2 linked regions of the Homo sapiens genome follow. The protein of the gene in region 2 interacts with the protein of the main gene of each other region in a biochemical or structural test. Each region holds a gene or a part of one and is shown on either strand. Other genes may lie near its edges. The genes, in order: SLC12A1 and OXSR1.

Region 1 (3,927 bases), on a different chromosome or scaffold from region 2:
AACATTTGTGGAGCTGGGCACAGTGGCTCATGCCTGCAATCCCATCTCTTTGGGAGGCCAAGGTGGGAGGATCCCTTTAAGTCAGGAGTTCGAGACCAGCTTGAGCAACATAGCAAGACCCTGTCTCTACAAAAAATAAAAAAGTTAGTCAGGTGTGGTGGTGCATGCCTGCAGTCCCAGCTACTCAGGAGGTTGAGGTGGGAGGATTGTTTGAGCCCAGGAGTTCAAAGCTGCAGTGTCCACCACACTTCAGGCTGGGTGACAGAGCAAGACTTTGTCTCAAGAAAAAAAAAAATCCAAAGAAAAAGCATCTGTGAAACACTTTTCTGGGAACTAGGGACAGTTTTGTAAGTAAGATGGATAGTGTTTGGAATAGACCTCTCCATTTGACTGTTTCACATTCATTCATAGTGTAATGAAAGAGAAGGAAATTATCTGAAGTTATGAATAAGGGAGGAGACTTGCTTGTGTCCTTCAAGCTTACCTTTGCGAGTTGCTCGTGAATCTCAAGCAGGCTGGGTCGGTTGACCTTGGGCCCACTGATGCTGCCGGTGTTACGATAGTACTCTATCTTGGGAACGGCATCCATGGTGTTGTGGCCAAAAGTTTGTAGATAGTATGTGTTTGTGTGAGAATCATAAGCGTGAAAACTGGCATCTGTTTTAGCAGTTTCTCCACTTTGGAGGAAATTGTCATAGCACTCCTGATTCCCAGGCCTAAAGCTGATTCTGAGTCTTTTCTGAGCTTCATCCCCAAAAGAGGTTTCTTCATAATGTGGTGGGTCAGTATTGTCATCTGCAGCTGCACTGCTCTCATGGTTCTCATTTATGACACTAACTTGAAAGCGATTGGTATTACTGGGCACTGAATCCAGAAATACATTGGAAGAGTTGTTCAGTGACATCTTCCAAAATTGATTTTTTACTGAGCTATCTACTTTGTGGTTGTTTTAAAAAATCTATATATTTCTTCATCAAAATAAACACTAATGTGCTTCCATTAGGGAGCTCCTGGCTTTTGTTCTAGATGATTCAATAAATAGATTCTTGATATATTGTCTCCGATATAATCTTCAGGATGTTCTTCAAAGCTGTCATTGAAAAAGAAAATTAAACTTGTTCCAAGTAATACAAATATATTTAGGTAAGGGTGGGATATAAGGGAACAGTTTTATTTTACAAGACATACAATTTTAAACTCATTTCACTAAAATTTATCTGTCCAGGAACCTTAGTCATGTGAGTAATTAAATCTGATAATAAATAACTGGAAAACTGTTCCAGCAAACAGAACTTCCAATGCAGTCATTAAAATGTTACCTGTGTTTGTAGTATTTGCTTGAATTCAGTGCACTGGAGTTCACTGTGACTTTAGAAAAGATGTAACTTTACTTATTGAATACAGTAAGAGCTGATGAGAATATTCTCAGCCTAAGACACAGTTCACTGACAGTACTAAATGCTGAAACTGCAAAGTATTTTGATTGTTAGGAATATATACTATACAACATATAAAATGAAAAACAAAACTTCTAAAAAATATATTCTTGCTAGTTTATAAAAATCTGTACATGTTCAACTTATAAATTCCAAATTTTGTTACCTATGCAACAAGTAAAAAATTATGTTTTAGAATATGCATTTAAAAAATACATCCCATCAAGATGATGTCTCTGTGAATTCTTAGATCTTTTACAAGATCCAAATGTTTCATTTGCTCATACATTTGTTTGTTTTGCAAATACTAACATGAAACCTTAAAAAAATATGAATATAGAAATAAGTCATATATCTATAAGAAATAAGTCATATACCTTAAAAAAGTCCTCTGCTATGTTTAGGTAAAATAATCATGCTCTACTGACTCATTTTAATGAAATGTCTTCAATAATTGAGAGGTTTATATTTGACTGTGAGGTGAATAGACTTCACAATAATTTTCGCAATTTCATAGTACTGGCCTGTCTTAAAACACTTGCTTTAGAATTATATTTCCTTATTGATACCTTAAAATTTGGCTTTTCAAGGGAAGTTCTAGAAAAATGAGATAAATATAAATAAAAACTTGTCTCTCTCATGCAGTTATTAAAGCTGTGTATTTGAATTAAAAAAACCCTCAACTTCATTTCTCAAGTAACCTTTCCTGGGGAAATTATAAATGAAGCTATTATCGTTTTAGTTTTTACAAAACACTTCTCTTCATAGTCCTTGACACCCTCACCTACTCCTCAGAATCTACTTTATGACATAATATTAAGTATGATTTTTACCCTGCCCAGAAATGTTCAACTTACCACCAAGGAGCCTTCTTCTGAGGAAATGTAACCTGCTTCAGCGTCACCCAGGAATATATGGGACACTTAGCTTTCAGCCAGAAAGTTAGGCTTCTGCTTATTGGTTAGAAACTTTCTTGAAAGAGATGACTGTGCAATGATTGGCCTGGAATAGTACTGTAAGCCCCACCAGGTCATTAGCCCTGAGGAAACTTAAGTACCACATCAACTGGTAACTAGTAGTAAACCATTAATCCTTTTAGACAGGAAGTAACATAGAGTTTCTTTAATTCATAAGGAGAATTGGATCCCTTAACAGCAATTGTCCAAAAAATATGAGCATTGCCATTAGTCATTTGGGAATAGATAAATTGAGTTCCACCGTCTTACAGATGAGTCCTAGTGACCTCCTATTGTTTAGCATGTGTATCAAAATATAGTTCTCCAGAGACAATTTCTATACTCTGTAACTAGAAAGTAGTGTCTGAAATGATTTTATCTTGCTTGTAGTAGACATTACCTTGACTCTTTTGCATGGGAAGTAAGCAGATTAAGAGTGGAATCAATGATTTATTGAAAATATTTCTATTTTGGGAAATATGGGAAAATTTTTTTTTTTTGAGATGGAGTCTCGCTCTGTTGCCCAGGTTGCAGTGCACTGGTGCAATCTCAGCTCACTGCAACTTCTGTCTCCCAGGTTCAAGTGATTCTCCTGCCTCGGCCACCTGAGTAGCTGGGATTACAGGCGCCCACCACCACGCCTGGCTAAATTTTTTTGTAATTTTAGTAGAGATGGGGTTTCACCAGGTTGACCAGGCTGATCTTGAACTCCAGACCTCAGGTAATCTGCCCGGCACAGCCTCCCAAAGTGTCAAGATTACAGGTGTGAGCCACCGCGCCCAGCAGGGAAAACTGTTTTAAGCAGGAACCAAACTGTGGGTAAGCATCTCAGTGGCACTACTAAATGACCTTTCTGTCTCCAACTAGAAAAACATTTTTTTGTCCAACTCAGTTTTTGAGTTTTGTTGAGGAAAAGGTTTTTCTTTTTCAGATCTGCAAGTAGGTGATTATTAACACTGCAAACAATTCCTCCCTCAAGTCTGTCACTGATTATCAATCAGGATGATTGAATGAGTCCTCTTTGTTTCTTATAAGAAACGATTTAAGTGATTTCCAGTTGTCTGAGTAGCTCGGTTGTGGTGTAATATAGTGGCTAGGAGCAAGACTCAAGTCAGAAGGCCCAACTTATGTCGTGGCCCTGCCACTTGCTGTCTGTGTGAACTCAGTCAAGTTACTCAATCTTTCTGTGCCTTAATTTTCTCATCTGCAAATGCAGTTGTGGATTATAATTGTACCTACCTTGTTGTAGAGTTATTTTGAGGAATAAATGAGTTAGTTTGTGTATGGGGTTTAGAACAGCAACAATTTGTACCTAGTGCTTGCTTTCACTATTTTAGCGCTATTTACAATTAGCTGGGGATTTTTACTTAGCACATACAAGATTGTGAGGTGAATCATTAGAGATTGGGATAGATATTTTGTCTATAAAAAATAAGTGTAAAGGTAAGTTAGTGAACTGATACAGGATTATAGAAGTGTCTAGAGACACCTAAGTAAAACCCTTTAGATCCTCTTCGTTAAGTAAATGTCATGCT
Region 2 (3,827 bases):
TAAATCTTTCAAACTGGGTAACTCTACTTCTTGAGACAGAGAAGGATCTGCCCAAGCATGAGCAGGACTAAGAAAAAATTTCAGTTTCTCTCCGCTTTACTAAACTTAGAAATTTAAGAGAGAGAACGTAGGGCCGGGCATTGTGGCTCCCACCTGTAGTCTCAGCACTTTGGGAGGCCAAGGCAGGCAGATCACTTGAGCTGACAAGTTTGAGACCAGCCTGGCCAACACAGTAAAACCCCGTCTCTACAAAAAAATACAAAAATTAGCCGGGTGTGGTGGCACACGCCTGTAGTCCCAGCTACTTGGGAGGCTAAGGTGGGAGGATGGCTTGAACCTGGGAGGCAGAGGTGAGCCATGATCATACTGCTGCACTCCAGCCTGGGCAACAGAGCGAGACCCCACCTCAAAAATAAATTTTTTAAAAAAGAGAGAGATAATGTAAAAGTAGATATTCCTGTCAGGAAAAAATGAATTAAATGAATCAAATCAAATGAACACATTTTCTCCTAAATTGTGCCCAGCCATCACTATAATAGGCTTATAGTCTAAAGATTTTAAAGTATATTTTAGTAAGGTTTTGCATTCACTGAAGAAAAGCACTAGCCCAGGCTGTTTTGAAAGATGACTAAAGTATTGTCACCTGAACCACACAAAACATAAGAATTTACAATTTTGTTAACCCCTTTTCTAAATAAGGTCTCTTGTCAGAGTCATGTTGAAAATTAACTGGCAAAACATCTGTAAGAATAGTCATCATCATAAAAATCATGCTATTCTCTCCATACAAAGATGAAAATAAAGACACTGCCATATGCTTCAAGTAAGTATTCAAGCAGCCTGATGGTTTTGCAATGAATCATCACTCGCTCTCCTGTTCACTCTGGTGATCTCCCATCTGAGCGGATGGCAACTCCATTCTTCCAGATGCTCTAGCCAAAAATCTTGGAATCATCTTATCTTCCCTTTCTCTCACATCTAATCCAACAGCAAATCCTCCTAACTTCAAAAAATATGCTATATCCAGAATCTGACCACTTCTCACCATCTCCACTACTACTTCTCTCCCCTGGATAACCTCCTTCCACCCTTGTGCCCTTATAAAACTATTCTTCATATTGCAGCCTGAGGTGTTTGTTTGTTTGTTTTTGAGACAGTGTCTCATTCTGTCACCCAGGCTGGAGTGCAGTGGCGCCATCTCGGCTCACTGCAACCTCTGTCACTCGGGTTCAAGCGATTCTCATGCCTCAACCTCCCGAGTAGCTGGGATTACAGACATGCACCACCAAACCCAGCTAATTTTTGTATTTTTAGTAGAGATGGGGTTTCACCGTGTTGGCCAGGCTGGTCTCAAACTCCTGGCCTCATGTGATCCACCTGCCTCCGCCTCCCAAAGTGCTGGGATTACAGGTGAGGCACCTCGCCCAGCCTGCAGCCTGAGTTTTAAAACGAAAGTCAGGTCACGTTAAATCTCTGTTCAAAACCCTGCAATGATTTTCAGTCTTACTCAAAGCAAAAGCCAAGTTCCTACAACAACTTACAACCTGACAATCAGGACCAAGCATCCATACCACCTTACCTTTCTAACCTCTTCACCTATCTGTCTCTTCACCTTCTGATTTACTCTGCTCTAGCTGCCCTCAAACCTCCTTAGCATTCCTTAATCACATTAGCATGCTTCTGCTTCAGAACCTTTGTTCTTGTTGTCCTCTGCTTGGAACAAACTTCCTGCAGATAACCACATCATTCACTTCTTCACCTTCTTCAGGTCTTTCCTCAACTGTCATCTTCTCAGTGAGGTTTTCCCTGACCTAAAACTGAAACCCCACCTCCACCCCTAGCAGTCCCTAACCCCTTTCCCTGCTTTTTCTTCTTTAGAGTTTCTAGATTATAAACTCTGTGAAAGCAGGCATTTTTTGTGTTTGCTTCATTGTTTTATCTCCAGCATCCAGAACAGTGCCTGGCACATAACAGGAGTTCAAGAAATATTTGCTGAATGAATTAATCACATAGTGGGGTATATTTTCAAGGAAAAAAAATCTTGTTTGGGGCAGAACACACACAGAAATAGCCCAGTCTTCATGGGTGTTATTTCATCGTTACCATCATGTACATTAACATTCACTGAGCATCCATTCTGTGTGCCAAGTCTATGCTGAGCACTTTCTTTACTTACATTTCTTCTTTTCATCTAATCATTACAATAATTCCATGTGATAGGTATTCATGGTCTTACAAGACAATGTAAGTAAAGCAATGTAATTAAGGTAAAACTTAGGTCATACAGTTAGTTAGGCAGAGTAGGGCCTAGAAATAAGAACTACCTGAGTTTCAACATTATGCTCTTAATCAGTAGGCAACTACCTCTTCAGATTAAAGCTAACATTTATTAACTGATTACTATGCATCAGGTTAAATTATTTACTTGCAATACCCTATTTGACTATTTTCATTTTAAAAAAAAATGAGGCCAATATTCTTAGTTGCTTAGCAAACATACAATTTCCCCTTCTTTAGTAAGATAATCCTGACCTATTTTGTTTGAAGTAATAATGTGTCCAGCTAAAGCTTCATTTTGCAGTCTGCCTTGCAAATGACCAAATTATACAGTTCTGGCCAGTAAAATAGAAGTGGAAGTCACTGAGTAAGGCATCTAGGAAAGAAAGCCTTTTAAAAGAGAACCAACTCAGCTGTCATGTGTCTTTGTCCTTTTGCCATATTCTTCTGGACAAGAACACAAGCATGAGTCTAGAGGTGGAACAACCATCTTCCAACTATGAGAAGGAGAGTCACCTGCTAAGTGTGGTCGCATGAAAAAACTAGGAGCCTGGGTGCCTGACAGCACCTAGGCTGCCACCTCCAGTCTTCTTGTTATATAAGGGGGAAAAAGGATTTTATTAAGCCACTATTATTTCCATTTTCCCCACATGCAGAGAAATGTAAGCCTTATTTGATACAACACTATGAGGTTGTTGGCCCAATGCTGGCCTCATAGAAAATGTCACCTTAGCTGAGTCTCCCAATCAATGGAAAAATACACTATTAAGCACCACTCTATTGAAAGCACGAAGTCCTTCACATTTATGGAGGCGCTAAAGGTAAGGCCCTGGAATCTGTATTTGAAAACCACAACTTTAAACTCAAAATGTGTGGCTAGTAAACAATCAATGAAAATAAAAAGAAGGGAAAGTCAAGAATAGAAATATATTGCACTGCCTTCAAAGTGTCAAAGCTAGGTGAATCACACCTTAAACCTAGTATTAAGTTTTCAATTTTCTAGTCTGAGGTAAATAGTAAATACTTATTGAGACTTTTCAAGATGCAGGGCAATAAAACCTAACTGGCACAGCCCTCTCTGCCATCATATTGTATTATTAGCAATATCATGGTGATGGTCCTTACAGTTATACTACGATGTCCAACATAAATCCCTAAATCCATCTAAACCTGAATGAGGCCTGGACTAAGAAAAAAAAAGATGCGAAAATAAAATAAATGCAATAATGTTCCACTAAGCATTAAAAACAGATTCAAACTATTTTAAGTGTCACAAGCTTTCACATCACATAGTATTTCATATTTCATGGCAATACCAAAAATTGGGAAATATGAGGACAAGGGGAAGGGTAAAAAAAAGTCAGAGATAATAACAACTATCATTTTATACAAGCTAAACACTTCCCACAAATAATTACACTCAATCTATATAACGGCCCCAGTGACATAGGTACTATTCTCCCCACTATACAGACAAAAAGCTGACACGGAAACTAATCATATAATTTGTCTAAGATCACATAACTAGTAAGAGGCAATGTCAGGATTTG

What was found.
Region 1: the proteins of OXSR1 (region 2) and SLC12A1 interact in a test that uses a peptide from one of them, tested with the Homo sapiens proteins (one large-scale study listed by BioGRID and IntAct).

Annotation. Positions count from the first base shown.
Region 1 is NC_000015.10:48,204,697-48,208,623, reverse strand, and holds the start of SLC12A1 (solute carrier family 12 member 1), read right to left. Parts: upstream 2,323-3,927; 5' UTR 2,294-2,322; intron 1,091-2,293; 5' UTR 905-1,090; coding exon 485-904; intron 1-484. UniProt on the Homo sapiens protein: Renal sodium, potassium and chloride ion cotransporter that mediates the transepithelial NaCl reabsorption in the thick ascending limb and plays an essential role in the urinary concentration and volume regulation. Electrically silent transporter system.
Region 2 is NC_000003.12:38,171,905-38,175,731, reverse strand, and holds part of OXSR1 (serine/threonine-protein kinase OSR1), read right to left. Parts: intron 1-3,827. UniProt on the Homo sapiens protein: Effector serine/threonine-protein kinase component of the WNK-SPAK/OSR1 kinase cascade, which is involved in various processes, such as ion transport, response to hypertonic stress and blood pressure.